Linked DNA regions of Homo sapiens: regions 1, 2, 3, 4 and 5 are each linked to region 6. The links come from fine-mapping of genetic effects on gene expression. A gene starts in region 6. Each other region holds a variant in brackets. All regions are shown on one strand. Distances are from middle to middle.

Region 1 (5,109 bases), 85 kb before region 6:
GGAGTGGACACATTAACTCTAAAACACATATGCCAGGGACACTAGTCAGCCCTTTTATGTCTACCAAGAGTTAAATGGCAAGAGGGTACCTCTTGCTGCTGGCAATAGTTTCCTACAGCCCTACTTGTCCAGAGTGTTGTCCAGGAAATGACTCTACTGACTGGCATCTGGCACTTGATTCAAAGAGCAGTCAACGCACTGGAGGGCCCAAGCACTGGTCGTCACAGCAGTTTTTTGGTTCCATAATCAGTCTCCGCTCCCTGTACTGATAGGCTGAGATTGTATGCTTTCAGGTTACATAAAAGTAAGATCAGGAGTACACTGGTGACACTGGAATCATAAATTCTAACTTGAGTGATGTGAATGGGTCTCAGTGATCAAAGAACATCCTGCGAAGTTGTATGCAAATACATGAATGTATGCTGTTTTTCTGAAGACTGCACAACTTTCACTGGATTCTCAAAGGGGCTTATAGCCCCCAAAATATCTAAAACAAAACAAAGCCCATGTACTATAATCACCAGACAGGTATCATCCTGCTCTCTGTGGCTTTTATTCCTCTAGTCATTCAACAAATATTGAACATCTATGTGTAGGCCGTGAAGAGATACAACAGAGGACACAAAGGAGACAAACACCCCTGGCCCTCACGGAGCTGCATGGGTCCACTGCCTGCCCCTGTGTTCTCTGTGCACCTGCACCTGAATCAGAGTAGCCAGAGAGATAGAGGCTTTAAGAGGGCTAGGCTCCCTGTCTGTGTGCCCTGGCTAGCAGTCAAGTAATCTCATACACTCAAACCCACAACTGAATGCTATCTAATAGGGTTTTAATACTGAAGACTTGGTCTCTTTCTTAAAATTACCACTATCCTTCAGAGTAGTAACTTGATTCAAGAGGGCTGTTTACTGGTTAACACAGAGATTTTATTTGGGAAAGGTAGGGGGCGGGGCTAAAGGTATCACAGGCCAGTATGCTGTGGTACAAGAGTATGTGGGCTTTTGGAAAAGAGGAAGTCAAGACACGATCATATATATAAGAAAAGATACAAATTCAGCAAAGTCGCAGGGTACGAGATCAACACATAGATATCAGTTGCGTCTTATATATTGGTAATGAATAATTAAGAAAGTAATTCCAAGCCGGGTGCGGTGGCTCATGCCTGTAATCCCAGCACTTTGGGAGGCCGAGGCAGGCAGATCAGGAGGTCAGGAGATCGAGACCATCCTGGCTAATACCGTGAAACCCCGTCTCTACTAAAAATACAAAAAATTAGCCGGGCGTGGTAGGAGGCGCCTGTAGTCCCAGCTACTTGGGAGGCTGAGTCAGGAGAATGGCGTGCACCCGGGAGGTGGCGCTTGCAGTGAGCCAAGATCACACCACTGCACTCCAGCCCGGGTGATAGAGCGAAACTCCATCCCAAAAAAAAAGAAAGAAAGTAATTCCAGGCAGGGCACGGTAGCTCATGCCTGAATCCTAGCACTTTGGGAGGCGCCAAGATCATGCTGGGCAACATGGTAAAACCCCAATTCTACTAAAATACAAAAAAAAGTTAGCTGGGCGTGGTGGCAGGCACCTGTAGTCCCAGCTACTCAGGAGGCTGAGGCACAAGAATTGTGCCACTGCACTCTAGCCTGGGCAATGGAGCGGGAGTGAGGCTCTGTCTCCAAGAAGAAAAAAAAAAAAGTGATTCCATTTACAATAGCATCTAAAATAAAAATATCCAAGAATAGGCTGTGCGGTGGCTCATGCCTGTAATCCCAGCACTTTGGGAGGCCGAGGCAGGTGGATCACGAGGTCAAGAGATCGAGACCATCCTGGCCAACATAGTGAAACCCCATCTCTACTAAAAATACAAAAATTAGCTGGGCATGGTGGCGCATGTCTGTAGTCCCAGCTACTTGGGAGGCTGAGGCAGGAGAATCGCTTGAACCAGGGAGGTGGAGGTTGCAGTGAGCCGAGATTGCACCACTGCACTCCAGCCTGGTGACAAAGCCAAGACTCTGTCTAAACAAAACAAAACAAAACGAGAATAATTTAACCATGGTGAAACACTTGCATACCAAAAATTATTAAAGACCTAAATAAATGCAAAAACATTTGTGTTAATGGATGGAAAGACTTATGATTAAGATATTAATATTGGCTAGGTGCAGTGGCTCACACCTGTAATGCCAGCACTTTGGGAGGCTGAGACAGGAGGATCACTTGAGCCCAGGAGTTTGAGACCAGTCTGGGCAACATAGTGAGACCCTGCCTCATAAAAGAAATTAAAAAAAAAAAAAAAAAAAAAGCTAATACTACCCAAAGTGATCTACAAATACAACACAATCCCTATCAAAATTCTAACAGCCTTTTTTTTT[G/TG]CAGCAATGGGAAAACCAATCCTCAAATTCATATAGAATTGCGAGGAACCTGAATAGCCAAAACAACCTTGAAAAGCATCAAAGTTAGAGGACTTACACTTCCTTGACTTCAAAATTACTACAAAAAGCTATAGTAATCAACAGTGTGGTGCTGGCATATGGAGAGACATATAGAACAATGGAATAGAACTCAGAGGTCAAAAATAAACCCACACATTTATGATCAAGTGATTTTTTTTTAACACGTGGGAGTCTCACTATGTAGCCCAGGCTGATCTTCAACTCCTAGGCTCAAGCAATCTTCTCACCTCAGTCTCCAGGGTACCTGGGATTACAGGTGTGCACCACCACACCCAGCTTGGCCAACTGATTTTTGACTAGGGTGCCAAGTCTATTCAACAGGGAAAGAATAACCTTGCTGGGACAACTGCACCAATTTCCACATGCAAAAGAAAGACTCTGAAACCTTACCTCACACTATACACAAAAAGTCATTTAAAATGGATCAACAGCCTAAATACAATAACTAAGGTCAGGCATGGTGGCGCACGCCTGTAATCCTGGCACTTTGGGAGGCCAAGGCAGGTGGATCACCTCACTTTAGGAGTCCAGAAGAGCCTGGCCAACATGGTAAAACCCCATCTCTACTAAAAATACAAAAAATTAGCGGGGTATGGTGGTGAGTGCCTGTAATCCTGGCTATTTGGGAGGCTGAGGCAGGAGAATTGCTTGAATCTGGAAGGCAGAAGTTGCAGTGAGTCGAGATCGTGAGTGCCATTGTACTCCAGCCAGGGCGACAGAGTGAGACTCTGTCTCAAAAAATATAAAACAAAATAAAAAACAAAAACGCTCAAATAACCCAATTAAAAAATGGGCAAAGAACTTGAAAATATTTATCCAAAGATTTGCCAAAAGCCAATATGAAAAGATGCTCAACATCAGTCACTAGGAACATGCAAATCAAAACCACAATGACATACCACTTCACACCTACTAGGATGGCTATAATAAAAAATATGGAAAATAACAAGTGTTGATGAGGATGTGGAAGAATTTTTTTTTGGCGGTGAAGAAGGGAGCCCTTATATACTGCTGGTTGGAATGGAATATGGTACAGCTGCTATGGAAAATAGTTTGACAGTTCCTCAAAAAGCTAAACATAGGAGGCTCATGCCTATAATCCCAGCACTTTGGGAGGCTGAGGTGAGCGATCAGTTGAGGTCAGGAGTTCAAAGCCTGGCTAACATGGCAAAACCCTGTCTCTACTAAAAAATACAAAAATTAGCCAGGTGTGGTGGCACGTGCCTATAATCCCAGCTACTCAGGAGGCTGAGGCAGGAGAAATCGCTTGAACCCAGGAGATGGAGGTTGCAGTGAGCCGAGATGGTGCCACTGCACTCCAGCCTGGGCAACAGAGCAAAACTCCGTTTCAAAAAAAAAAAGCTAAACACAGAATTACCCATTTGACCCAGAAATCCACTCTGAGATATATAACCAAAATAACTGAAAGCAAGGACTCAAACATTTGTGTGTCAATGTCCACTGCAGCATTATTCACCATAGCCAAAATAACGAAAACAACTCAAGTATCCATCAAGAGATAAATGGATTAACAAAACGTGATATATACATAACAATGGAATATTATTCAGCCCTAAAGGAATGAAGTCTTTATCATAATTTCCTGTACAGATGGAGTCTCACTATGTTGCCCAGGCTGGTCTCAAACTCCTTGCCTCAAGTGATCTTCCCACCTTGGCCTTTCAAAGCACTGGGATTACAGGTGTGAGTCACCCCATGCTGGGACAAGAAATGAAGTTTTGATATATGCTACAATCTGGATGAACTCTGAAAACATTGTACCCAATGAAATAATTCAGACCCAAAGGACAAATATTGTATCATTTTACTTATATCAGGTAGGTAGAATAGGTAAATTCATAGACAGAAGGTAGATAGTTGGCAAACTATATAAACCTCAAGCTCTTAGTGTGGGAGCAGTCATGAGAATAAACTTCTCTCTGTGAACCCCTAGCTGATGGTTCTTCTTACTCAACAGCTATCACCAGAGAACAGCTATCACAGAAAACAGAGGTCAGCCTAATGACCAGGATGGGACAGGCCCTGCCTGAACCACACCAGGGCCCCAATTCCATGGCATTCTGACTTAATTTACACATTAGGAAAGAGGAACAAAAACCTTTTAAAAATATTTTTTTCTGGGCCGGGTGCAGTGGCTCACGTTGTCAGGAGTTCAAGAGCAGCCTAGCCAAGGTGGTGAAACCCCATCTCTACTAGAAATACAAAAACTAGCCCGGCCTGGTGGCGGGCACCTGTAATCCCAGCTACTCGGGAGGCTGAGGCAGAGAACTGCTTGAACCCGGGAGGCAGAGGTTGCAGTGAGCTGATATCATGCCACTGCACTCCAGCCTGGGTGACAGAGCAAGACTCTATCTCAAAAAAAAAAAAAAAAAAAAAAAATATATATATACACACACACACACACACACACACACACACACACACACACATAAAATATATATATATATACACATACACAAACACACATATGTATATATTTTTAAATACGAGAATATTCTAAAGGACTTTCTAAAGATTCCTACATTTGCATGGTATTATAGTCAAGGAAAAAAAGCACTTTTGGTACTAAAGAAATAAAGCTGAGATGCTGTGAAGGACAACTGACACAATGTCAAAGACAGAAGGGTGGAGGAGGATCCTGGTCAGT
Region 2 (5,109 bases), 170 kb after region 6:
CTCTCCTGCTGTGCATCCATACTGGGTGCTTTAGAAATGGCAGGCAGACCAGAAGCCCCTGTAGCAAGTGAGGACAAAGTGTGGGAAGGCCGTGAGGGTCTGCAGTCCGAGATGGCCTTGTCCTCAACCTGCAGTGCACTGTTGATGCGCTGGAATGCCGCCTCCTTCTCCCGGTCCAGGTCTTCAGCAGTGACCCAGTACCCCAGCTCTAAGGGAGGTGGCAGCATCAAAGGCTCCCCTCGCCTGCGTGGCAGCAGGGGAAACTTGTGTCTACGGGGCCTAGAGGACTGGGATCTGGGGGAGCCACCCCTGGGGCCGAGTGTCTGCCCTGGTGCTGTATCTGCCGTCTTTTCACACTGGGTGTGACCCGAAGAGACAGCCTCAGGTCCGTCCTCACTCACTGTGTTTGAGGAACTGAGGGTCAGCTGGCAGTGGGATGAGGCTGGCGCCTCTTCCGCTTTCGTCCCGGGAGGTCTCCCGTAGAGCTGCAGGAGCTCGAGATGGCATTTCGTTTGGGGCACGAGCTGGTCCGGGAGGTCTGGGATCTCTGGTTCTGACCTCTGGGCACCTGCTGCAGCTGTGGCTGAGGCCCAGAAATGTGAAGGGCCTCCATCCACTCCAATAGTGACCCCAATGTGCGGTTCAATGTGGAGGGGGGAGGGGCTGCTGCGGCAGCTGCAGGAGCAGAAGTGCCAGGCCTTGTTCTTCTCATGCCCGCATCCATGCTTGCAGCTGGGAAGGGGGCAGGAATCAGCGAGGTGACCTGGGCTGAGTCCTGGGAGTGGGAAGAGGTGGCAGGAAGGGGATCTGAGGAGGAGAACAGGGGGCCTGGTGGTCTGTGCTTCTCCCCAGACATGGGAGCTGTAGAGGGGACCTCTGTAGCAGATGCTAGGGGGGCCACTAGGCCCAGGCAGTCTTGGGACTTGTGTCTCTCCTGCTGTGCATCCATACTGGGTGCTTTAGAAACGGCAGGCAGACCAGAAGCCCCTGTTGCAAGTGAGGACAAAGTGTGGGAAGGCCGTGAGGGTCTGCAGTCTGAGATGGCCTTGTCCTCAACCTGCAGTGCACTCTTGATGCACTGGAATGCCGCCTCCTTCTCCCAGTCCAGGTCTTCAGCAGTGACCCGGTACCCCAGCTCTACGGGAGGTGGCAGCATCAAAGGCTCCCCTCGCCTGTGTGGCAGCAGGGGAAACTTGCGTGTACTGGGCCTAGAGGCCTCGGATCTGGAGGAGTCATTCCTGAGGGCGAGTGTCTGCCCTGGTGCTTTCTCTGCCACCTTTTCACACTGGGTGTGACCCGAAGAGACAGCCTGAGGCCTGTCCTCACTCACTGTCTTTGAGGAACTGAGGGTCAGCTGGCAGTGGGATGAGGCTGGCCCCCTCCTCCGCTTTAGCCCCGGCAAGCCTCCCGTGGAGCTGTAGGAGCTGGAGATGGCATTTCGGTTGGTGCACGAGCTCGTCCAGGAGGTCTGGGATGACTGGTCATATCTGATTTCTGACCTCTGGGCATGGAGGTCTGTCTGCAGAGGCCCGGGCCCGGGCACAAAGGGAGAGAGGCCTCCATTGTCCCGCAGGGGCCGAAATGCAGACGGTGCATCCCCGGTGACCTCGGGGACCCTTCTCTGATCACCAGGATTCTCTTGGACTCTAGGGTCCTTGTCCTGCTCAGGCATCCCTGCCCCGCTCTCCTTGAGGGCCCTCAACACTATCTTCCCTGGACACAAGTCTGGGGACAGCCGGCTGTTGTGGACCCCAAAGGGGTGACTCCCAGCTCCTGGGCCCCACAGAGAGTCCATGTTCTCAGTGCAGTGGCTGAGCTGGAGGACGCCCTGGAACTCGGAGCACACAGCACTGGCTTGCTGTGGTACCTGTGCAATCAAATTGAAGGCAGGATCCCAGAAAGGAAGGCAGGGCTTGCAGGATCACGGAAAACCTTCTTAGAGTTGTCTTGACACCACGGATGTCAAGTGTCCGGGTGCTTGTAGGATGGCCTGCCACTCAGTCCACGGGCAGGAGCAACGGGGAGATCCCACAGGCAAAGTGAACTGGGGGATGGGCTGAACGGGCTCCAGGCAACTGAGCCCTACTGGCAGGTCCTCGGCCTGGGCCCGAACAGGAAGGAGGGGCACAGAGTGCCCAGGTAACCGCTCCTGGGAGCAGTGGGGAACCGTCGGTTGCTTGAACTCTCGAGAGCTGGGCTCTGAGCGTCCTCGTCCAGCCGCCAACTCGGCCAACGGCTAAGCCAGCAGTTTCTTCTGTTGCCGGGCAACGCGCCTTTTAAACCTGAGGGAGCGGGCGCGTGAGCACATCACGGCGCCCGTGACAGAGCGAGCTTAACGGATTAATAAGCGCAGCCAGGTACCCGCGCGAGGCACTTGCTGGCAATGGCGGGAGGCGGACGTGGGGGGTCATGCAATAGGTACTGGAAGGAGAGAGGCGGGCACAAAGGTCGCGGGAGGAACAGGTGCCCACAATGGCGGCAGATCTGCCCGTGGATCACTGAAGATTCCTGCTCTCCTGCTGAGGTGGAGATTGCAGTGAGCTGAGATCGCACCATTGCACTCCAGCCTGGGCAACAAGTGCAAAACTCAGTCTTCAAATAAAAAAAAGAAAAAGAAAAACAAAAGGCCGGGCGTGGCGGCTTATGCCTATAATCCTAGCACTTTGGGAGGTCGGGGCGGACGGATCACGAGATCAGGAGTTGGAGACCAGCCTGGCCAA[C/T]ATAGTGAAACCCCCTTTCTAGTAAAAATACAAATTTAGTCAGACATGGTGGCACGCGCCTGTAGTCCCAGCTACTCCGGCGGCTGAGACTGGAGAATCACTTGAACCCGGGGGCTGGGAAGGGATTGCGATGCGCCGAGATCGCGCCACTGCACTCCAACCTGGGCAACAGAGTCAGAGTCTTTTTTTTTTTTCTTTTTTTTTTTTTGAGACGGAGTCTCCCTCTGTCGCCCAGGCTGGATTCCAGTGGCCTGATCTCTGGGCTCACCGCAAGCTCCGCCTACCGGGTTCACGCCATTCTCCTGCCTCAGCCTCGGGAGTAGCTCGGACTACAGGCGCCCGCCACCACACCCGGCTGCTTTTTTGTATTTTTAGTAGAGACGGGGTTTCACCGTGTTAGCCAGGATGGCCTCGACCTCCTGACCTCGTGATCCGCCCGCCTCGGCCTCCCAAAGTGCTGGGATTAAAGGCGTGAGCCACCGCGCCCGGCCGAGACTCTGTCTTAAAAAAAAAAAGGCCGGGGCTGTGGCACTTTGGGAGGCGGAGGCGGGTGGATCACGAGGTCAGGAGTTGGAGACCAGCCTGGCCAACATAGCGAAACCCCGTCTCTACTAAAACTACAAAAAATTAGCCGGGCGTGGTGGCGGGCGCCTGTAGTCCCAGCTACTCTGGAGGCTGAGGCAGGAGAATGGCGTGAACTCGGGAGGCGGAGCTTGCAGTCACCCGAGATCTCACCACTGCACTCCAGCCTGGGTGACAGTGCGAACCTCCGTCTCAAAAAAAAAAAAAAAAAAAGAGAGAGAGAGACACAGAGAAAAATGTTTATTGACTTAATGCACTTTTATGCCTGTGTTCTTCAATTTGCTTAGGAAAGACCTACACTTGAGAGCTGGGACTGTGGCCGATTGTGGACATGAAATATATGGTTTCTTGCAAAAACTAGACACTGAATAATTACGATTTAGTTGAGCTAGAAATCCATTTGGTTTCTTCCATATTTTTCCAAAATTTTCATCCTTTTTTTTTTAATTTTGAGACGGAGTTTCGCTGTTGTCTCCCAGGCTGGAGTGCAATGGCGCGATCTCAGCACCTGCTGGCAATGGCGGGAGGCTAGGGGACGCTGGCTTGATAGGTACTGGAAGGAGAGGCGCGCGCACAAAAGACTTGGGAAGACCTGGCGCGCACAATGGCTGCAGATCCGCCAGTGGATCACTGAAGATTCCTGCTCTCCTGCTGAGGCGGGGATTGCAGTGAACTGAGATCGCACCATTGCACTCTAGCCTGGGCAACAAGAGGGAAACTCCATCTCACACACACACACACCAAAAAAAAAAAAAAAAAAAAAAAAACACACAAAGAAAAGAAAAAGTAGTGGCCAGGCGTGGCGGCTCACACATCCCAGCACTTTGGGAGATTGGGGCGGGCGGATCACGAGATCAGGAGTTGGAGACCAGCCTGGCCAACATAGTGAAACCCTGTCTCTACTAAAATACAAAAATTAACCAGACATGGTGGCACGCGGCTGTAGTCCCAGCTACTGGTGTGGCTGAGGCAGGAGAATCACTTGAACCCGGGAGGCGGAGGTTGCGGTGTGCCGAGATCGCGCCACTGCACTCCAGCCTGGGCTACAAAGCGAGACTTCCTGTCAAAAATAAATAATTAATTTTTAAAAATTATGTAGAAGATAAAAACTTTATGTTCTTTTTAATGTTTGCTGTCCATAAAATCATCTGGGCCTGGTGCTTTTCTTTGGTTTTGTTTTTTTGTGAGATTTTTGAGGGGATGGGATACAGATTTTTTTTTTTTTTTGAGACGGAGTCTTGCTCTGTTGCCCAGGCTGGAGTGCAGTGGCACCACCTCGGCTCACTGCCACCTCCGCCTCCCGGGTTCACGCCGTTCTCCTGCCTCAGCCTCTGGAGTAGCTGGGACTACAGGCACCCGCCACCAGGGCCGGCTAATTTTTTGTATTTTTAGTAGAGATGGGGTTTCACCGTGTTAGCCAGGATGGTCTCGATCTCCTGACCTTGTGATCCGCCCACCTCGGCCTCCCAGAGTGCTGGGATTACAGGCGTGAGCCACCGCACCCGGCCGGGATACAGATTTTAAAATAAACATTCAATTCCTTTAATGGTTCTAGATCTAGACAAACTTTTCTGCTTCTCCCTACTTTGTTTTTATGAAGTTATATTTTTCTTTTGAGACAGAATTTCTCTGTTGCAGTCACGCGATCTCGGCTCACTGCAACCTCCGCCTCCCAGGTTCAAGTGATTCTCCCGCCTCAGCCTCCCAAGTAGCTGGGGTTACAAGCATGTTCTACCACACCCAGCTAATTTTTGTATTTTTAGTAGAGTTGGGGTTTTACTATGCTTGCCAGGCTGGTCTCGAACTC
Region 3 (5,000 bases), 110 kb after region 6:
AGAGCAGGAGGCCTCCCTCACACCCCTGGGCTCTGCCAGGTATCCCATTGCCCAGCACCCTTCTCCCACTGGGTGGCCAGGTGGACACAGGTGTTGTTCTTCGTTCCTGCTGTCCAGTTCACCCACACCAGGCTGCTGGTATGCTGCAGTAGAGAACCGAGGCTCCACACCACACAGCCTGCCTGTTGACCGCAAGGCCAAGGCTTTGTAGCTTATTTGCCTGGTGGCTACCACAGCAGATGCTCAGCAAGGATGTGCTGAAAGAATAAATGGCCCTCTCCCATTGACGGTGCAACACCGCAGTGACTGCATGACAGCCGCTCGGGGAATTGGCCTTGTCCTCAGTCAAATGAGCAGTAGCTGGTCATAGAGGGGCTTTGACTTACTGACAGTCCCACAGCTAGTTAGGGAGGGGCAGACCCAGGACAGAAACCCAGTGTTTGGTCCATTTGCCCACACCTTAATTTATAAAGTTTTATTTTCCCCTTTAAATGAAATAGCAAGGCCAGGCACAGTGGCTCATGCCTGTAATCCTGACATTTTGGGATGCTGAGGCGGGAGGATCACTTGAGCCCAGGAATTCAAGCCAACCTGAGCAATATAGTGAGACACCATCTCTACAAAAAAAATTGCAAAATTAGCCAGGCATAGTGGCGTGCCCCTATAGTCCCAGCTACTTGGGAAGCTGAGGCGGGAGGATGGCTTGAGTCTAAGAGGTCGAGGCTGCAATGAGCCATGATCGTGCCACCACACTCCAGCCTGGGTGACAGAGCGAGACCCTGCCTCTAAAAAAATCAGATAAATAACTGAAACCCCATGTGTTTTTCCTATTTCAGGAATATCTGAACAAACATCAGAACTGGGTATCGGGACTGTCCCAGCACACGGGGCTGGCCATGGCCACTGAGAGCATCCTTCACTTTGCTGGCTACAACAAGCAGAACACAACTCTTGGGGTATGTGCGAGCCTTCTGAAGAGCAGTGACCCCTTAGACCATAGGAGCCACAGTGCAGGGGAAGGCTTAGAGCTCGGCTGTCGCTTTTCATGACGCACATGAGTACATGCAGGGTGCTGTGGATGTCTGTTGACAATGGTAGTGGTGCAAGCCGCACCTTGGCCCAAAGAAGAGGTGGCCATTGAAATGAGTGTTTCCTTATTGTGCTTTTTTTTTTTTAAATTTATGGATTTATGGGGATCAGTGCTTGATATGTCAGTGATCAGATTTTGATTTGAATGTCCCCATCTGAGAGGATGGAAACAGAGCTCCGCCTGACACGGGCAGCGCGATGCCACAGTTGCACTTATCTGGAGCGTATACTGGACTCCTGAACAGTTCTGTTTTCTGCAGGTGCTGAACCGCACATGAATGCCTTCAGCTTCTTGTTCTGCTAGAGATTAATCTAGAGGACAGAGGGTTCACACAGCAATACTTTCTGAGTTAAATTAGAGCTAAGAGTTAAAAAGGATTAAAGCAGGCAGTTCCACCTGGCCATGTGACTGGGGCTGGTCAGAGATTTTGTTGGTTAATGTGAATCTAGAGCCTGGCCATGTGTGCTTCCCAACTCTCTCCAAATGGAGCATGGGATGGGATATGTGGAGGTGCAGAGGCTGTGTACCCAGGAGGAAGGGTGACAGGCCTCCCTTGGGATACCGGCGGGAGAGAGGGGCCTGAGTGCCCTCTGGCTTTTGTGGGGCCTGAGGATGTGCCAGAGAATGCTGGTGTCTTCTCGCCTCATTTTGCTATCAGGGCACTCTCCTCGAGGTCACTGCACTATCTCTAAAGACACCAGTCTAGCAGACATGGTTGAGCTGGGTCCAGCCTGCACCTGCAGGGCCACCCGCCCTGGGCCTCCTACTCTGACGGGGCACCAGGTATCAGTGCCCTGACCTGGACGTCTCTGCCACTGGGTGGCCACAGAGGCCAGAGGCGGAACTCATAGACTGTAAGTGTTTATGATAGTCATAAGCCTTTTCCTTTTTGGGGGTGGTAGGAGCAAAGCTTTATTACATAAAATAGAATATGTGTTCTCATTTGTAAGCCTTTTCTAGACTCTAGCCAGCTGACTTGTGAAAGATCTGTTTTGCCTAAAATATTTTGTTCTTTTTCCCCAGAAAATTTGATGTAAGTTAGGTTTTCTCTAAGTTATTTTTTTTAATTTTTAAAAATTAATTCTGGGGCCAGGCACGGTGGCTCATGCCTGTAATCCCAGCACTTTGGGAGGCCAAGGCGGGCGGATCACGAGGTCAGTGGATCGAGACCATCCTGGCCAACACGGTGAAACCCCGTCTCTACTAAAAATACAAAAAATTAGCCGGGCATGGTGGCAGGCGCCTGTAGTCCCAGCTACTTGGGAGGCTGAGGCAGGAGAATGGTGTGAACCCGGGAGGCGGAGCTTGCAGTGAGCCGAGATCCCGCCACTGCACTCCAGCCTGGGCAACAGAGCAAGACTCCATCTCAAAAAAAAAAAAAAAAAAATTCTTTTTTTTTTTTTTTTTTT[TG/G]ATGAAACCCCATCTCTAGTAAAAATACAAAAATTAGCCAGGCGTGGTGACATGCACCTGTAATCCCAGCTACTCGGGAGGCTGAGGCAGGAGAATCACTTGAACCAGGGAGGTGGAGGCTGCAGTGAGCCGAGATCGCATTGGGCAGTGAGGAGTGATGGTGGAAGGGAGGGAGCCGGCCTGCACTGCCCACCAGGTGCTGTTTGCCATGCCAGGACATTGTGTGTGTCATTACGTTGAACGTGTAACAACATTGTGAGAGGGTTATGCCCACTTTACAGATGAGCACATTGAGGCTCAGAGACATTGACTTCCCAAGGTCTCACAGCTGATTAGTATCAGAGCCAAGCTCTAACTCAGTCCTGCTTGGTGCCAAAGACCGCATTGTTTCCAGAAAATGTAAAGCAGTTTCACGTAATTTATTTTTTTAAATAAACCAGTTTAATAATTTCATGAGAGAAATCATGTATTTTTGTTCTTGTTTATATTTTGATGTTCCCCAACATCTGTATTTTCTTCTCCTGGTCCTCTTTCTCCACACCATGTCCCCTCAAAAAAAAATCCCTCTAAACTCAAAACAGTTGAGAAGCTCACTTTCCCCATTAGTACTGATGCTAAAGGGAAATGCGAAAGGAGGTCCTTTTCAATGCATGCTGTACTCTGCAGTGACCGTGGATGAACAGGAACTGAAAGGTGTGGCACAGCAGCCAGCCTGGGTTAGGAAGCCAGGTCACTGAGGCCCTGGGGCTGGGAGGCTGAGGCTGAAGCAGAGAGAGTGGCTGGAGGGGTGGAGTGGGTGGGCGGTAGTTTTCAAATATTTTTCTCCCATTCTGTGGGTTGCCTTTGTATTCAAGGTGTACCCTTTTCTGTCTCTTCCCATTAGACTGAAGAGCAGCCAGCAGATGTTTAAGAGCCTGCTGGCCTTGGCTCTCCCCTTCAGCCCCTTTACGGTCTGTAAGTGACATTTATAAGCTGCACACGCAACTCTCAAGGAGACGGCTGTGAATGCTTTCATGGCGTTTCCATCACAGGTGACATTGCTCTCACAATCTAGTGATTCTTTTTCTTGCAAAGGCCTATTTACCAGTAGCAGAAACTGCCTTCCAGAGACTTTTTTTTTTAATTTCTTATGGAACATATCAAACTGCTGGGTATTCTAAAATATTTTGCTTTATTAACTTGCCAGCAGTGAAGATTTTTATTAATAGTAACCCCCAGACCCGAGTGTGACTGCTTCATTGGGTTTAGGCTTAGCCATGGTAAACACGAGGAAAGGATAGTGCTGCCATAGTCTACAATAATGGTTATCTGTCTGTAGGCAACTCAGCTGAGCGAGCGCCCGGCCTGTGTGAAGAAAGACTACTCCAACTTCATGGCATCCCTGAATCTGCGCAACCGCTACGCGGGCGAGGTGCTTCTCTTGTCCTTGCGCCCTAGGGCCTTTAACGTGTCCTCTTGTTTTGAGGCCTGTTGGCCGCTTCCTAGTGGAAAATGAACAAAGCGTCCCGGTGATGTGGAATTAACATATTTTAGGAGGATTTAAAGAGCACATTTTAGGAGGATTCTTGGCACATTCCAGAGTGTTAATGACCAGTTACTTGTTTTTTCCACAAGAGGGTAACTCTGTGTACACTTTGGCTACACTGAATGAAGGTTTTTAATTTTTTTGGCTTTTTTTTACAGCAGTAACAAACACTTACATGCCATAGGCTCTTGGGCACTCGGTAAGATGTATGTATTATTATTCCAGTTTTATAGATAAACGGAGGTTCCCAAGATTAAGTAACTTGCCAAAGTCGCACAAGTGGAGTGGGGTCTGGAACCACATCTTCCAACTCCACATCGTGGGCTTTCACCCACCACACCACAGTTTATTCCAGCCTCACCAGTGCCATCACATCTGTGGGCCTCCATTTCCTGCTCCATAAACTCAGAAGCTAATCTATACCATTTCTTTTTGTTTGTTTGTTTTTGTTTTTGTTTTTGAGACAGAGTCTCGTTCTGTTGCCCAGGCTGGAGTGCAGTGGCACAATCTTGGCTCACTGCAAGCTCTGCCTCCTGGGTTCACGCCATTCTCCTGCCTCAGCCTCCCGAGTAGCTGGGACTACAGGCACCCACCACCACGCCCGGCTAATTTTTTGTATTTTTAGTGGAGACGGGGTTTCACTGTGTTAGCCAGGACGGTCTTGATCTCCTGACCTCATGATCTGCCCGCCTCGGCCTCCCAAACTGCTGGGATTACAGGCGTGAGCCACCGCGCCCAGCCTAGTCTATGCCATTTCTAAGCTCCCTGGTGACTCTGAAAGTCTATCAGTGGCCTGGTCTGAGTGGGAGTTCACTCCTTCTTAGCACTCTGTCACTTGTATGTTCTTCTCTCTGGAAAAAAAAGTTATATTTGTCTTTAAAAATAGATAGGTTGGCCAAGCACAGTGGCTCACGCCAGTAATCCCAGCACTTTGGGAGGCTGAGACAGGAGGATCACCTGAGCCCAGGAGTTCGA
Region 4 (5,000 bases), 91 kb before region 6:
CATTAAAAAAACTGACAAGGTTGTAAGTCCGTTAAGTTTTACTAGTTTTGGCACATATCTGGAGTGCAGAACTCAAGCTCGCCTTGTTTTGAGCTCTGAATCTCCTGGCAGCCCTGGATGCCATTTTCATGGGCTGAAGTAACGAGCTGATTAATTATAAAACCAAACCACAGGTATACTCTAGGTATATCTGATTCTGAAGTGCGCCACACAAGGTGAGTCGGGGTATTGGTCAGTAGACAGGGCTGAAAGGAAACCTTGCTTTCCAAAATGGCCAGACTTCTTGCACTCTGAGTCAACTGCTGTAATTCAAAGGTGTCAAGCCCTTCAGCTAAATCTGGTTGAAAAAGGCCTAAGGGTCGTGCCCTCCTTGAACAAGGCACACATTCCTCCCTCTGTTGGAAACTCCACTCATGGCTCAACATGGGCCGGGATGAACCACGTCACTGGCCAAAGGGCAAACACTGTTTCTAGGCAGAGTCTGGGGACTCTTGTGATATGTCTGCCACTTGTGGGTGCTACGCCAGGCCTGAACCCAAAATAAGCCAACCTGACACACCTAACCAGAAGCGGCAACTGCCGCAGACCGTGCAGAGCAGGAGGCGGTCACCGTTCTCACTGGCAAGGAAGGGCTAATCTCCAAGGCTTTTAGAGGAAAACCACAGATGGGAAGCCATGGCGATAGTTTTCCCAAATGACCATTAATTCTGTCTCAGGAACACTCTCAAGATTCATGAATACAGCAGTTATCTGCCTGATGGAATACTGATTTAAAGAAAAATTGAAAAATGGCTGTTCTGCTGGTTCTGTCTCCAGAATGCATTGCTCTAAATCTCAAAACCTAGGAACCTCCAGACAGGGCCACAGTCACAGCAGATGATCAGTAAATGAAAGCTACTCAGTAGGCTGCTGCTACATTTCTAGGTCTGCTGTGTTCACTATGAGCTGAGGCTTTTCTTTACCAGGGTCCACAAGGGAGAGCAGACTGAATTGCACAGGGTTCCCAGAATTCTAGTCTGCTATGTGCAGCAGATGATGGATGAACCACACGTATATACCAGTTGGCTTGTATGAACAGGCCTCTTTTAGCTAACAGGGAAATGCTTTAACATCAATACACTGATAAGTGGTTAATGATAAACTAGTTAATGGTCTCCCTAGTCACTAAAACACTAAGACATCAAATACATTAACGAATTTCCAGAGCTTGCATTTCCTTTGCTTGGGAGCATCACAGACACTTACTTAGACTGTGAGACCAGTATGAGCAGCACCAACTTTCTCTGGCAGCCTGACGAGATTGGGCCTGGGCACGGAGGTCTGGGCTTCAGTGAGTGGAGTTGAACGATTCATTAATGAGTCCAACGATTCTATGAACAACGCCACTTTTTAAGGAAGTTTAAGTCTGAACCTTAAAGGGGTACATTCACTGAAAAGCTGAACAGAAAACTGGCCAAGTGCCCTCCAACCCACTGCTCTTATCACTGGCAAAACAAGGTAAGCAAAGGTTTCCCTAAAGTACCCCCAACTCTGATGCTTTTTAAAACAAAGTAATCCAAGGGGCTGTGCACATAGCATGGCACACCACAACTGCATTATTTTGTGTGTTGTCTGCTACATGGCAAAACAAGGTACTACTGGCAACCAAGACAATAAAGGCCTCTGCTTCAGGGTTGTTCTTTTCAGATTCCTTTAGTTACAGCAGCTTCAGTTTAGAAGCTCAGAGGCATGAGTCATTCCTTGCACTATCATAAAAACCCAACCTGCTACTTAACCTGTTTAGAACACACAAGTCTAGGCCAGGCGCGGCGGCTCACGGCTGTAATCCCAGCACGTTGGGAGGCTGAAGGCGGGTGGATCACCTGAAGTCAGGAGTTTGAGACCAGCCTGGTCAACATGATGAAACCCCGTCTCTACTAAAAATACAAAAATTAGCTGGGCGTGGTGTGCGCGCCTGCAGTCCCAGCTACTTGGGAGGCTGAGGCAGGAGAATCGCTTGAACTCAGGAGGCGGAGACTGCAGGAAGGCGAGATTGCGCCACTGCACTCCAGCCTGGGTGATGCAGCGAGACACCGTCTCAAAAAAACAAAACAAAACAAACAAAACAAAACAAAAAAAAACCCCCACACAAGTCTAATTAATTAGTTTTCCAAAACCAAACCAAAACAAAAGAAAAAAAAAAGCCAGATTTTGGAGTTTTAGAACAGAATTCTCTCTTCCTTAAGGTTCACTTCCTGTTGTCCAAAGAAAAGCAAGATGGCAGCTAAGCCACTGCTTTGTGGAACAGCAAACATGCAGTATCTCGCCATGGCCTCAAGCTTTCTCTGGTGAACACAACAGAATCAGTCCCATGTACAAACGGGCAGCAATGAGAAGGAAGACCCTTTCCATGTCAACTTCTCTCCACTTGTGTGCTTCCATCAGTATTTCCAGTTTATGATCCAAAAGAACTCTAAAATCGGCTACTCTTTGACAATACGACTATGATACAAACATCAGGAGGCAGCCGCTGTGTGCATTCCAAATGTGTGTGCGACTGCCAGTCTGCAGAAAGCTGGACTTCGGCAATGCAGTGTGACTTGCCTATGAGAGAAAATGCTTTCCCACTTCAAAGGAGACTAGGACAGGCAGAACAACAAAGCAGCAGGAAACAGGGCAACAGCAATCACTCGTTTTCATCTGGGTTTTGAGGGTCAAAGATTTTGACGTGCGTAAAGGGGAAAAGCCCTTTGCGCCCGTTCACTTCGCCTTCCCACTGGCCATTTATATTCATCCTTGTGACTTTCACGATGTCACCAACCTGTATGGATGAAGAAGACAAAGTTAGCATTTCTCTGCAACAAGAAAAAGACAGTTTACATTAAATCACAAACACTACCTTATCCAAAGGGCCCATACATTATTATTTAGACACAGGGTCTCACTCTGTTAGCCATGCTGGAGTGTAGTGGTGAGATCCCTGCTCAATGTAACCTCTAAC[G/A]CCTGGGCTCAAGTGATCCTTCCACCTCCACCTCTTGAATAGCTGTGACTACAGGCGTGCACCACCATGCACATTATTTTTTAATTTTTTATAGACGGGGTCTGTCGCCCAGGCTGGAATGCAGTGGCCCGATTACAGCTCATTGTAACCTTGAACTCCTGGGATTACTTGAGGTCAGGAGTTCGAGACCAGCCTGGGCAACATGGTGAAACCTCATCTCTTCTAAAAAATAGAAAAATTAGCCGGGTGTGGTGGTACATGACTGCAGTCCCAACTACTCAGGAGGCTGAAGTGAGAGGATGGCTTGAGCCCATGAGGCTGAGGCTGCAGTGAGCCGTGATAGTGCCACGGCACCCCAGACTGGGCAACCGAGTGAGACCCTGTCTCAAAAAAACAAAAATCAAAACACACACACACACAGAAACAGCTTTTGAGCACAAAGCAGCTCCCCACCCCACACCAACCTTCTATTTTGGCCACTAACCCCAACAGGATAGAAATGAACACATGATTCTGAGAATGGTTAAAGTCAAATTACACAAAAAGGTGTATTTTAAAAAAAGACCTTCAGGTGGTAGTCATTGTAGACAGGGTGTTACTCTGTTCAGCAGAGCACTAATCTAAGGTTCTGTATTGTGTACTTAGGTCCATAAAAACGCTACTTGAATATAAGACCCACCTAAGATCTAAGACAATAAGAAATAAGCTTTTGTCTGCTTAAACACATATAGAACCAGGCATCGTGGTACATGCCTCTAGTTCCAGGTCCTTGGCAGACTGAGGTGGGAGGACTGCTTGAGCCCAGGAGTTTGAGACCAGCCGGCGCAACGCAGCAAGACTACATCTCAAAATAAAAACAGGCATAAGGTTTTTATGGCACAGTCCAATGGTCCGTGCCATGAACTTTGGAGCATGCAGGACACCAAACAAATGTCCTGGTTCTGCCACTTTTAGAAACTACATGACTGTAGCAAACTGCTTAAGTTCTCCAAGTCTCAGTTTCCTTCCAACTTTGAAAGGTTCTTGCAGTAATTAAATGATTGTTACTTGAGTAGAGATTCCTGAATAGAACCCATCCCCCAACCCCACGCCCCCTCTAATGATCATACCCTTTGGATGCACGAAGGGAAGAGCTGGAATTAGCACTGAGAAGCACAACACTGTATATATCAGAGGATTTCCAACCTTGTCACCAACAAGGGTCCTCTCAAAACCAATGAGGAACAGGCTGAAAACGGGGTCTAATAAATGACTGTGATGGATACTAAGCAGCCAAAGAAGACTACGGGAAGATTAAAGATGAGGCTAAGGATTGAAAGCTGCCAAGAACACTCACACCTCACGCCTTCCAATTAACTTGTGAGTCTGGCGGTCTTCAACAGGATACTTTCTACATGATCCTACCTAATCAATTAAATAAATTTACTGAACATCTACTCCATGGAAAATGGGCAGGTCAGTTCGTATCCTTAAAAAACTTCTGTCTTTTGAGTGGGATACACAATGAATCTTTGTCAGATAATAACATAGTGTGAAAAGCACAAAGTGGCCGGGCGCAGTGGCTCACACCTGTAATCCCAGCACTTTGGGAAGCTGAAGTGGGTGGATCACTTGAGCCCAGGAGTTCAAGACCAGCCTGGGCAACACAGTGAAACCCTGTCTCTAAAATACAAAAATGAGCCAGGCGTGGTGGCATGCACCTGCAGTCCCAGCTACTTGGGAGAATGAGGTGCGAAGATCGTTTAAGCGCAGGAGGCAGAGGTTGCAGGGGTGCAGTAAGCTGTGATCACACTACTGCACTCCAGCCTGGGTGACAGAGCAAGACCCTGTCTCAAAAAAAAAAAAAAAAAAAAATGAAAAAAAGAAAAAAGAAAAGAAAAGAAAAGAAAAAGCCTAGGCGCAGTGGCTCACATCTGTAATCCCAACACTTTGGGAGGCCAAGGCAGATGGATCACCTGAGGTCAGGAGTTCGAGACCAGCATGGCCAACACGGCAAAACCTCATCTCTACTGAAAAATAC
Region 5 (5,109 bases), 220 kb after region 6:
GACATAACCAGTCTGGGCCTCAACTTACCCCATCCATAAGATGGAAATAACAGTAGCGCCTGCTTTCTTGGGTTGTGGCGAGACTGAGTTATGCAAACTCTGCTAACAGCTCCCTGGCACATAGTGTGTACTGTGTAAGTATTAGCTATTAGATCATCGTGGTCATCATCATCATCATCATTGCTATGATTGACCCTCCTGTTAGAATTTAGTCCCCAGGCTGCAAAATGTCCAGGGTTCTCACTGGGAATTGAGGATGAAATGGCTGGGGAACGCCAGAAGGAAAGGGCACAGCCAGAGCAAACAGCACGGGCTGGCGTTTGCTGAGGCACTTTGCCTAACACCCTCCAGGTGACAGGGTGTGACAGATAAGGGGTGGCACATTGGTAGGTGTGCTTTTGAGGCAGGACCATCATTGAAAGCAAGCTGCCCCCTCAGTATCTCTCTCCCTGGTTCCTGACTTACTGGGGCCTTTTTAATCCAGCTGCAATTTTGTTTTATTTTTATCTGATTTTGTTTTATTTATTTATTTATTTATTTTGAGACAGAGTTTCATTCTGTCAATCAGGCTGGAGTGCAGTGGCGCGATCTCGGCTCACTGCAACCTCTGCCTCCCAGGCTCAAGCAATTCTCCTGCCTCAGCCTCCCAAGTAGCTGGGATTACAGGGGTGTGCCACCATGCCCGGCTAATTTTTGTGTTTTTGGTAGAGACGGGGTTTCACCATGTTGGCCAGGATGGCTGACCTCAGGCAATCCACCGGCCTCGGCCTCCCAAAGTGCTGGGATTACAGGCGTGAGCCACCACGCCCAGCCGATTTTATTTTTTAGAGACAAGATCTTGGCTCACTGCAGCCTTGACCTCCTAGGCTTAAGCAATCCTCCCACCTTAGCCTCCCAAGTAGCTGAGACTGCAGGCACACGCCACCACACCCAGCTAAGTTTGCTTATTTTTTGTAGAGTCTGGGTTTCACTGTGTTGCCCAGGCTAGTCCAGAACTCCTGGGTTCAAGCAATCCACCCACCTCAGCCTCTTAAAGCACTGGGATTACAGGCGTGAGCCACTGTGCCCGGCCGGCCCTCTTTTTAAAAAAATTTGTAATAGATATACTGTAGTTGTACATATTTTGGGGGTGCATGTAGTATTTTGATAGATCCACTGCGTATTGATCTATCACGTTTGAGGTGATTGGAACATCCATCACCTCAAACATTTATGTTTTCTTCATGTTGGGAACTTTACAGTTCTTCTAGCTATTTTGAGATATACAATAAATTACTGTTAATTATATTTTTCCTACTATAATATACAAGAACTTAATTCCATCTAACTGGATTTTTGTACCATTAACCAACTTCTCTTCATTCCCCTCCTACTCTTCCCTTCCCAGCCACTGGTAACCACCAGTCTACTCTCCGCATTCATGAGAAATACTTTTTTAGCTTCCATGTATGACTGAGAACATGTGATATTTGTCTTTCTGTGCCTCACTTTTTTTACTTAACATAATGATTTTCAGTTCCATTCATGTTACTGCACGTGACAGGATTTCATCCTTTTTCATGGCTGAGTAATATTCCATTGCATACATATACCACATTTCCTTTAACTGTCAATTCATTGATGGACACTTAGGTTGATTCTGTACTATTCCTCCACACATAGGTTGATTTTGTACTATCGTTAATGGTGCTGCAGTAAACATGGGCATGCAGATAACTGTTTGATGTACTGATTTCCTTTCTTTTGGATGAATACCTGTATTCAGCTGATATTTGAAAGAAAGTTGTCCACATCTCACAGTGTCTTTCTCTGTGTATGGATTGGAGGCAGACAAAGGCACAGCAAGGCCACAGAGTCATTGGCCACCTTCTTTCCTGTCCCTTCTCTGCCTCCAGCCTATCAATTAAATGTTTTGGCTTCCAGCAGAGGAGGATGGCATCACCCTGACTGTGGCTGAGCAAGGTGATAAGACTTCCCTAGGGTTGTAGAGCTATTAAGCCATTCAGCCAGCAAGTGACATCAAGCCTTGCCTTCCTTGTGAAGAAAAGGAGGGGTTAAAAAGTAGCTGAGCATGATGGCACATGCCTGTAGTCCCAGCTACTCAGGAGGCTGAGATGGGAGGATTGCTCGAGCACGGGAGGCTTAGGCTGAAGTGAGCCATGATCACGCCACTGCACTCCAGCCTGGGTGACAGCGAGACCGTCTCAGAAAAATAAAAAAATAAAGATGGGAGTGTGGGACAGCACTTTGGGGACTCCATAAGACAGGGCAAAGGGTATCAGGTGGTAGATGATGATGCTTTTCTTTCCTCTCCTGACAGGGCTTACCTACTGCAGACACCTGTCCACTGAGAGGACCCACTTGTCATCCCTGGTCAATTACATGATCATGTCTCTGGACTTGCCCTGTGATGCTGGACAGGAGCTGACAGCCGGGATCTGGGAGCAATACCTTCAGGATAGCACAGCAAGGTTTAGCTGGGCTTGATCTGCAGTGGTGTAGAGGCTGCAAAGGAGGGGCGATTTTGTTATGTGAGAAATAAGCCCACCTACTTGTGGGGACTCAAGATGACTTGTTTGGATTCTGCATATGCAAATTGAAGATCTCCTCCTCTTCTTGAGAGTTCCAAGACCCACAACTCACTTTTGCCCGTGAGTGTGGAGATTGAAGGGGATGGAAAACATGCTCACCTGGGATGAATAAAGAGAAAGTCAGTGAGTAAGTATTTATTATGAAGCATTAGTTTGTATCACTCCTGCACAAGGTGCTGAGACATGGCCCCAGCCAGAAGGAATTTACAGTCCAGTCAAAACTGCCTAGAAGTGTGACAGCAGCTGAGTTGGAGGGAGGCAGCTGAACCAAGAAAACCTTATCAGCACT[A/G]TTTGAAACTTTTATCTCATCTGGCTTGGCGCCTGAGGTTCTCCCATTAGGTAAGTCACCTGGAATGCTTTCTAATATTTTCTTATAAGAATACAAATGTTCCTGGAAGGAAAATGTTTATGCTTGAAAAGAGTCTCATAATCAAATAGTTTGGGGAAGTTTAAGTTAAACAGGTATCCTGAAGGATATCTTAGAACCTTGGCTATTCTGGTATTCTTGTCACTCTCAGGAAATTGAAGGCGTGTGGGAGAGCATATGGAACATTCCTTCAAATGCATTTGGTCATAGAAGCCTTTACTGGAAAATACCTCCCATGGCTAGTAAAAAGCAAAAATGACTGAGAAGCACTGGTTTATCTCTGCCAAGAACAAAATCTAGGAGGAGGTACCTGTTTCCTCCACACTGGGTAAATCTAGTGGCCCAATCTGCTGTGCACCTTCCCACCCAGGTGCGTTCTGGGGAGGGTTGAGCTGGTTGAGTGTATCAAGAGTTGATTCCTTTGGATGGCTGAGTGCTATTCCATAAGATGGATGTAGCACAGTTTAACTGTTCACCTGCTGATGGATGGCTGAGTTATTTCTAGATTTTTGGCTATTGCTATTAAAGCTGTAATGAACATTCACGTACGGTTGTTTGTATGAGCACAGGTTGTCATTTCTCTGGGATAGATGAGTCAGAATGTAATTGCTAGGTCATACGGTAGTTCCATGTTCAGTCGTATAAGAAACTGCCAAACATCAACAGTAGCATGTGCCTTTAGTCCCAGCTACTCTGGAGGCTGAGGCGAGAGGATCACTTTAGCCCAGGAATTTGAGTCCAGCCTGGGCAATATAGGGAGACCCTGTCTCTAAAGAGAAAAAAGAGACTGCCACACTTTTGCAGTGGCTGTGGTATTTTATATGCCCACCAGCAATATATGAGTGATTCACACTTATATCTTCAGCAGAGTTTTGTCTTGTCACTATTTTTTATTTTAGCCACTCTGATGTGTGTAAATTATATTTCATTGTGGTTTTAATTTGCATTTCCCAAATGGCTAGTGAAGTTGAAGATCTTTTCATGGGCTTATTTGTCCATTGTGTATCATCTCTGGTGAAATGTCTGCTCGTGTCTTTTGCCCATCTTCTAATTGGATTGTTTGATTTTTTGTGTGGAGTTTGCAAGTTCCTTATATACTCAAGATAACAGTGCTTTGTTCATATATGTTGTTTGAAAATATTTTCTCCTAGTCTGTAACTTGTCATCTTTTTAACAAGGTGTTTTGCAGAACAAATTTTTAAATTTTGATGAAACTTAGCTTAGCAATTTTTCCTTTTGTAGACTATGTTTTTGGTGTCAAGTCTAAGAAAATTTTGCCTAGTCCTAGCTCCTGAAGATCTTCTCCTACATTTTATCCTACAGGGAGGCACCTGCAGCTGGGCTGGCTTTCCAGCTATTTTAAGCCTCAGGGAATCTTGGTTTCTCCAGGCCAGCTGTGCTGGGGATGAGGTGCCTGAGCTCATGGGGAGACCAACATGGGCAGGGGGCTGACCCGAGGCTAACTGGGGCTGGAACAGCCTGAGATGACAACAACCAAGGACAGAGACAAAATAGAATATCCATTTTCCATCTGAATGTCTCTCCAGCCACCCAGAAAGTCAATTTCCATTATTATGAACCTAGCTTCACAGAGGGGAAACTGAGGCTGAACCCGAGCCTCCAGCTCCAGCCACAGGCCTGGCCCAGTCAGGGCTCCTCAGCCCCTGGCCGCCTCCAGTCTTGGGACATCGCTCCTCCTGAGACCCCAGACAGGTGCTCTCTACTCCCCACTCTCTGCCTTATTTCTCCCCAGCACAAACCCCATCTCCTACACCACATCGCTCCCTTGTCTATTGGGTTGATTTACATCTCCCCCAAATACGAGTTCTCCGAGCCTGGCTGTGCCTACCTTGCCCCTTGCTGTGTTCCATGAGCAGGAGGTGCTCCCTTGTCTGACCAGGGTCCCCTGAGAAGTGGGCCCATCTGGCTGGTCTGGGGTCTCACCTTCTTCAACCACTCTGCCCAGGAGCCCCGGGACCCAGCACCCCTTCCTTTCAGAGCTGCTCCGTGCCCCCGGGCCCTCACAGCCTTCCTGTCTCCTGTGGGTGCCCTGGCCAGGCCTGGCTGGTGGGTCATCCTAACCATGGGCTACTCTGTCCTCAGAGTGGACATGGGGCATCTGATGGCCCCAGCTCTGTGACACAGGCCACA
Region 6 (5,097 bases):
GCTACTCAGGAGGTTGAGGCAGGAGAATCGCTTGACCTGGGAGGCAGAGGTAGCAGTGAGCTGAGATCGCGCCACTGAACTCTAGCCTGGGAGACAGAGCAAGACTCCGTCTCAAAAACAAAAAACACCAAAAAAACAAAAACAAAAACAAAAACAAAAAAATTAGCCAGGTGTTGTAGCAGGTGCCTCTAATCCCAGCTACTTGGGAGGTTGAGGCAGGAGAATCATTTGAACTGGGGAGGTGGAGGTTGCAGTGAGCCGAGATCACACCATCGCACTCCAGCCTGGGTGACAGAGTAAGACTTTGTCTCAAACAAAACAAAAATAAAAAACCAACAGTTAAACACAGGGAGGTGGGCTAGGTGCAGTGGCTCACGCCTATAATCCCAGGACTTTGGGAGGCCGAGGTGGTGGATCACGAGGTCAAGAGATCGAGACCATCCTGGCCAACATGGCAAAACCCCAACTCTATTAATACCAAAATTAGCTGGGTGTGGTAGTGCACGCCTTAGTCCCAGCTACTCAGGAGGCTGAGGCAGGAGAATCACTTGAACCCAGGAGGCGGAGGCTGTAGTGAGCCAAGTTGGTGCCACTGCACTCCAGTCTGGTGACAGAGCGAGAATCTGTCTCAAAAAAAAAAAAAAAAAACCACAGGGAGGTGGATCAATGAGGGATACATGAACAGAGAGAGGTGGGGAAGGGAATTAACCCAAGAAAACAGCAAGGGGAAATGATAGCGTGTTGCTCTGTCGCCCAAGCTGGAGTGCAGTGGTATGAACATGGCTCACTGCAACCTTGACATCCTGGGCTCAAGCGGTCCTCCTGCCTCAGCCTCCTCAGTAGCTGCACTCACATGTGTGTGCCACCATGCCTGGCTAATTTTTCAAATTTTGTAGAGACGCAGTTACCCCTGCTGGTCTCAAACTCCTGGGCTAAAATGATCTGCCTACCTCAGCCTTACAAATTGTTGGGATTACAGAAGTACAACCGCGCCTGGCTTATACATTTTTTTAAACCTTTTTTTTTCTCTGTCCAAACAAAACTGTTTCATTAGCAGGCTGAAGAGAGACTGTGGTGTACAATAAAGAATCATTCTCGACCGGTATGGTGGCTCACGCCTGTAATCCCAGCCCTTTGGGAGGCCAAAGCGGGCGGACTGCCTGAGGTCAGGAGTTCCAGACCAGCCTGGCCAACGGGGCAAAACCCTGTCTCCACTACAAATACAAAAAAAATTAGCCGGGTGTGGCGGCGCACCTGTAGTCCCAGCTACTCGGGAGGCTGAGGCAGGAGAATCGTCTGAATCCCGGAGGCGGAAGTTGCAGTGAGCCCAGATCATGCCACTGTACCCAAGCAAGGGCGACAGAGCGAGATTCCATCTCAAAAAAAAAAAAAAAAGAAAAAGAAAAAGACCCTCCAGGATCTCGGTCTGTTGCCCATGCTGGAGTGCAGCAGCACGATCTCAGCTAACTGCAACCTCTGCCTCCCGGGTACAAGCGATTCTCCTACCTCAGCCTCCTGAGTAGCTGCGACTACAGGCGCACCGCCACACCCGGCTAGTTTTTTTTTTTTTTTAATTTTAGTGGAGACAGGGTTTCACCATGTTGCCCAGGCGGGTCTCGAACTCCTGAGCTCAGGCGATCCGACGCCTAGGCCTCCCAAAGTGCTGGGATTACAGGCGTGAGTCACTGCGCTCGGCCAGAATAATTGTTATTGAAGGTACTACTCTCTGAAATCTAAGGATGGGAAGAACTGATGAAGATGAGTTGGAGCAACAAACTCTTAACCCGCACACTATTTGTCTAGGATTTGGGAAGTAAAGGTAAGACCCTGGACTCAATCAAACCCAGGCTTTGGTCAACTAGGCAGCTGTCTGGGCTGAAGGGACTTCAATACCTCTATTGGTTGGTTAGGTGGAGATGTCAATGATGCGGGAAGAACTCGTGGACCACCTGCCCTGATGCTTCAGGGTATCACCTGACACTCGCAGGCACATAGTCCTCTCTTTCTGGCTCACTCCGGAAGGAATGGCCAAAACCCTGTGCCAGATTTTGCACAGGAAATAATGTCGAAGAAACGGACTCTCCATTTCCCAAACCTAGGACCTGCTGTTCAGAATTTTTACTCACCTGGACAGAAAATAATCTGGCGTTTCCCCGTGAGCTAGGCGTAAGAAAAAAAAAATCAACGAAGCAGACTAATAGCTAAGGAAGATTTCTGGGGTAAACTGCCCTCTTCAAGTACTCCAGATGCACATACCTTTACATAGTTAACAGATTGTTACCACCATCGAGTCACTAAGGTGCAAGAATCTATGCTAGGCAACTTGAGAATTCTCAAAAGATTGTGAGCAAAACATTTCTCGTCTCCGTTTGACAGCACAGAGACCGGCGAGTCCACACCAGCCCTGCCCCAGGCTCACCTCGGAAGAGGCGACCCCAACCTTCTCGGACTCGTACATGAGGGCCAGGGACCTGCTGGTGCTGGCGGCCGTGGCCTCAGCCCTGCGGAGGACCTCCTGCCGCAAGTACTGCTGCCTGTCCGCGGGCGCGTCGGGCCCGTCGGGGAGGTCTCGGGCGTCCCTCCAAGGGGCCGGCCGGGCGCCTTCGTCCTCCCCGTCGTCGTCGAACGGATTGTAGCTTTTAGGGTAAGCTGACATGGTGCCGGCGCGGCTCTCGGTCTGGGAAACAGAAGGAGGAGCCCCACTGCCGCCGCCGTCCAGGGCCTCGCCCCGCCCGCCGACCCCGCGGTCGTCGCGCGAACTCCTTCCGCGCGTCGCGCGCAGGTGGCCCCGCCCTCGGAGCCGACCATCGCGCAGGTCGGCTGGGGGGGGCCCACATCCGGCGCGCGCAACCGCAGCCTACTGTCCATCCCCTCTCTCCCCTGCAGCGGTGGGCCCGCCCCGCAGCCACGCCCTATCTAGTGTCAGCAACTGAGAGGTCACGTGGCGGGAAAGCCGGATGCACCTACGCCTGCGCCCTGAGGTCGGGCGCTCGCGGGCCAGGAGCGGGGAGCCGGCGGGCAGCGCCGCGGCTCGTGAGGTGATGGCGGCGGCCCCGGCCCGGGGAGGCGGAGGCGGAGGCGGAGGCGGCGGCGGCTGCTCCGGCTCCGGCTCCAGCGCCTCGCGGGGCTTCTATTTCAACACGGTCCTGTCACTGGCCCGCTCCCTGGCGGTGCAGAGACCAGCATCCTTGGAGAAGGTAACGTCGGCGGGCTGGGCCGCGGGCTGACAGGAGGAGGGGCTGGGGTGACGAAGCGTGGAGGCGGGACGAGGGTCTGTGGGAGGCCGAGGCTGGGCTCGCCGGCAGCCTGTGCGGGAGGGGGCGCCTGAGCGGAGGGATCTAGCGGGGGAAGGAGGCCCTAGTGGGAGGGGCTGGTGAAGAGAGAGGGACCGTGGGGGAAGGGTCGGCGGGGCCTGCAGGGCCGCTGCAGGTGGGTGGTTGTGGGATGGGGGTGGGGGATGTGAGCTGCTGGCCCAGGGAGCATCTTGTGACATCGCGGAGGTGGAGGCTGGATCGTGGGCGGCTGTGCGGAGCAGTGGGATGAGCCGAGGACCAGGGGTCAAGACCTGGGGTTCTGCTTCCGATTTCACCTGCTTTTTATTCCGCGACCTTGGGAAGATGGCTTTCTTGTAAAATGGGGATGCTTTTATCTGCTTTGCCGGCTTCACCGGACTGTGGTGACCAGGAGACGAAACACTGTCTTGAAAGTGCTTTGTGACTGTAAACCAACTGCGCAGTGTTATTCTACGAGGCTGGGGGCGTTAGGTTGGGTAAAAGATTGTGCGTTTGCAGAAGGGACAGTGGCAGGGAAAGGAGAGTGAACTGTCAGTGGGCAGAGAAGTGAACTTGGAATTGCTTCAGAAGAGAAAGGTGAAGTCATGCCAGAGCAATCCTCATCTTGGGAGAAAGGTGAAAGGCAACTCAGTGGTGTGCCTTGAGATCTGGAAAGAGACAGATTTTAGAGTGGGACCTGAATTTGTTCCCTGCACTGGCACTTACTTACCATGTCCTCTTGGGTAAATTTAACTCTTAGAGCCTCTGTATCCTTATCTGTAAAATGAGGTTGTTCTTGAGAATTAAATGAGTTCTAGCATAAAGCATCTTGCACAGGTCAAGGCACAGAGTGGGTGAGCAGTAAATGTCAACTTTCTTTGCCCACCCGTGTGCGATGAGACTCAGCACAGTGTTTAGCTCTGAAAGGATGGAATTATTTTCCCACTCAACTTTTTGGCACATGGAGAGAGGATGTTTTCCGACAAGATAAGACAGTGGTGACCGGAGACCAGCCTGCTGCAGTTGGGAGTGGTTTTGTGGCTGTCTGCTGATGGATGAAGCTGAAAGGCTGTTTTAGGCACTTTTGGCAGAGTGACCTGGTCCTTGGCCTTGTCGGTTCTCATATTTGATTTTATCATGCACCTTCGGGGTGAGAAGGTCCCGGCAGATTGGTGCTAACCTGACTTCTAGCTAAAGAGGGAGTACAATGCAATGGAAAGGACATGAGTTTGGAAAATGGAACCTCTGAATTTAAATCCTGTATCACTTGCTTTCACTAGTGTGACTCTAGACAGGTCAGTTCCCTTCTCTGATACTTTGCTATCTTCTGTCAAATACAAGGTAGTACTTCATAGGAGTATTGTGAAGAGCAACAAAAAGGCACGTGGGTACCTAATGTATGAGCACTGTTATCATTAGATAGTCTGACTAATGGAGTGTAGTGCTGTTTTATTGAATCAAACTCATGCTAGCTAGTCAGCACATTCGCTTCTTAGCAGGAGAGCCAACAAATATATCTTATGACTGATTGCTGGATTCTGGGAGGAGAGAGAAGAGAATGCAGTGAATTGGATGATCTTTAAGAAGCTGGTCCTGCAGCTCCAGCAGTGGTAGCACCCTTTCCACTCAGTAACTCAGAAAAGGGCACCTTGAGCTCAATTTGCTTCTTCAGCCATGTTCACTAGTCACGAGAACATTCTGTAATTGCAACATTCTTAGCTTTGTAGTAATAACTGCTTCAGTTGTCAAGATTATATTTTATGATGGGGCACGGTGGCTCATGCCTGTAATCCCAGCACTTTGGGAGGCTGAGACAGGCAGATCA

Alleles and levels. Alleles are on the strand shown, and positions count from the first base shown. SD is a standard deviation of normalised expression in the study named. Not every link is listed here.
With allele TG in place of G in region 3, the expression in prefrontal cortex of the gene that starts at base 2,760 in region 6 is higher (moderate effect, 0.58 SD a copy in ROSMAP).

Evidence for each region. PIP is the estimated chance that this variant, and not a neighbour inherited with it, causes the effect.
Region 1: its variant is fine-mapped to the expression of SNAP29 in whole blood (TOPMed, PIP above 0.99).
Region 2: its variant is fine-mapped to the expression of SNAP29 in subcutaneous fat (GTEx, PIP 0.98).
Region 3: its variant is fine-mapped to the expression of SNAP29 in prefrontal cortex (ROSMAP, PIP 0.95).
Region 4: its variant is fine-mapped to the expression of SNAP29 in whole blood (INTERVAL, PIP above 0.99).
Region 5: its variant is fine-mapped to the expression of SNAP29 in uterus (GTEx, PIP 0.98).

The regions. Positions count from the first base shown.
Region 1 is chr22:20,941,321-20,946,429 of GRCh38, reverse strand. The region is part of intron 2 of CRKL (CRK like proto-oncogene, adaptor protein); the gene reads right to left. Among named protein-coding and RNA genes, the nearest start is that of LINC01637, 13 kb to the left of the region's middle. The variant G/TG (reference allele first, on the strand shown) is at 2,361.
Region 2 is chr22:20,686,717-20,691,825 of GRCh38, reverse strand. It overlaps the pseudogene POM121L4P. Among named protein-coding and RNA genes, the nearest start is that of SERPIND1, 85 kb to the left of the region's middle. RefSeq lists a silencer at 4,664-4,884. The variant C/T (reference allele first, on the strand shown) is at 2,721.
Region 3 is chr22:20,743,539-20,748,538 of GRCh38, reverse strand. PI4KA (phosphatidylinositol 4-kinase alpha) reads left to right here. Exons shown (of 55, transcript NM_058004.4): 29 at 837-956; 30 at 3,819-3,911. Among named protein-coding and RNA genes, the nearest start is that of SERPIND1, 28 kb to the left of the region's middle. RefSeq lists a silencer at 3,187-3,236. The variant TG/G (reference allele first, on the strand shown) is at 2,500.
Region 4 is chr22:20,947,511-20,952,510 of GRCh38, reverse strand. It overlaps CRKL (CRK like proto-oncogene, adaptor protein), which reads right to left. Exons shown (of 3, transcript NM_005207.4): 3 at 1-2,800. The coding sequence ends at 2,666. Among named protein-coding and RNA genes, the nearest start is that of LINC01637, 7.1 kb to the left of the region's middle. RefSeq lists enhancers at 1-490, 491-992. The variant G/A (reference allele first, on the strand shown) is at 2,981.
Region 5 is chr22:20,636,432-20,641,540 of GRCh38, reverse strand. It overlaps the pseudogene LOC100421121. Among named protein-coding and RNA genes, the nearest start is that of MED15, 130 kb to the right of the region's middle. The variant A/G (reference allele first, on the strand shown) is at 2,881.
Region 6 is chr22:20,856,670-20,861,766 of GRCh38, reverse strand. SNAP29 (synaptosome associated protein 29) reads right to left here and starts at 2,760. Exons shown (of 5, transcript NM_004782.4): 1 at 2,420-2,760. The coding sequence starts at 2,656. It overlaps PI4KA (phosphatidylinositol 4-kinase alpha), which reads left to right and starts at 2,956. Exons shown (of 55, transcript NM_058004.4): 1 at 2,956-3,197. The coding sequence starts at 3,042. RefSeq lists an enhancer at 2,029-2,838 and silencers at 2,518-3,277, 3,298-3,347.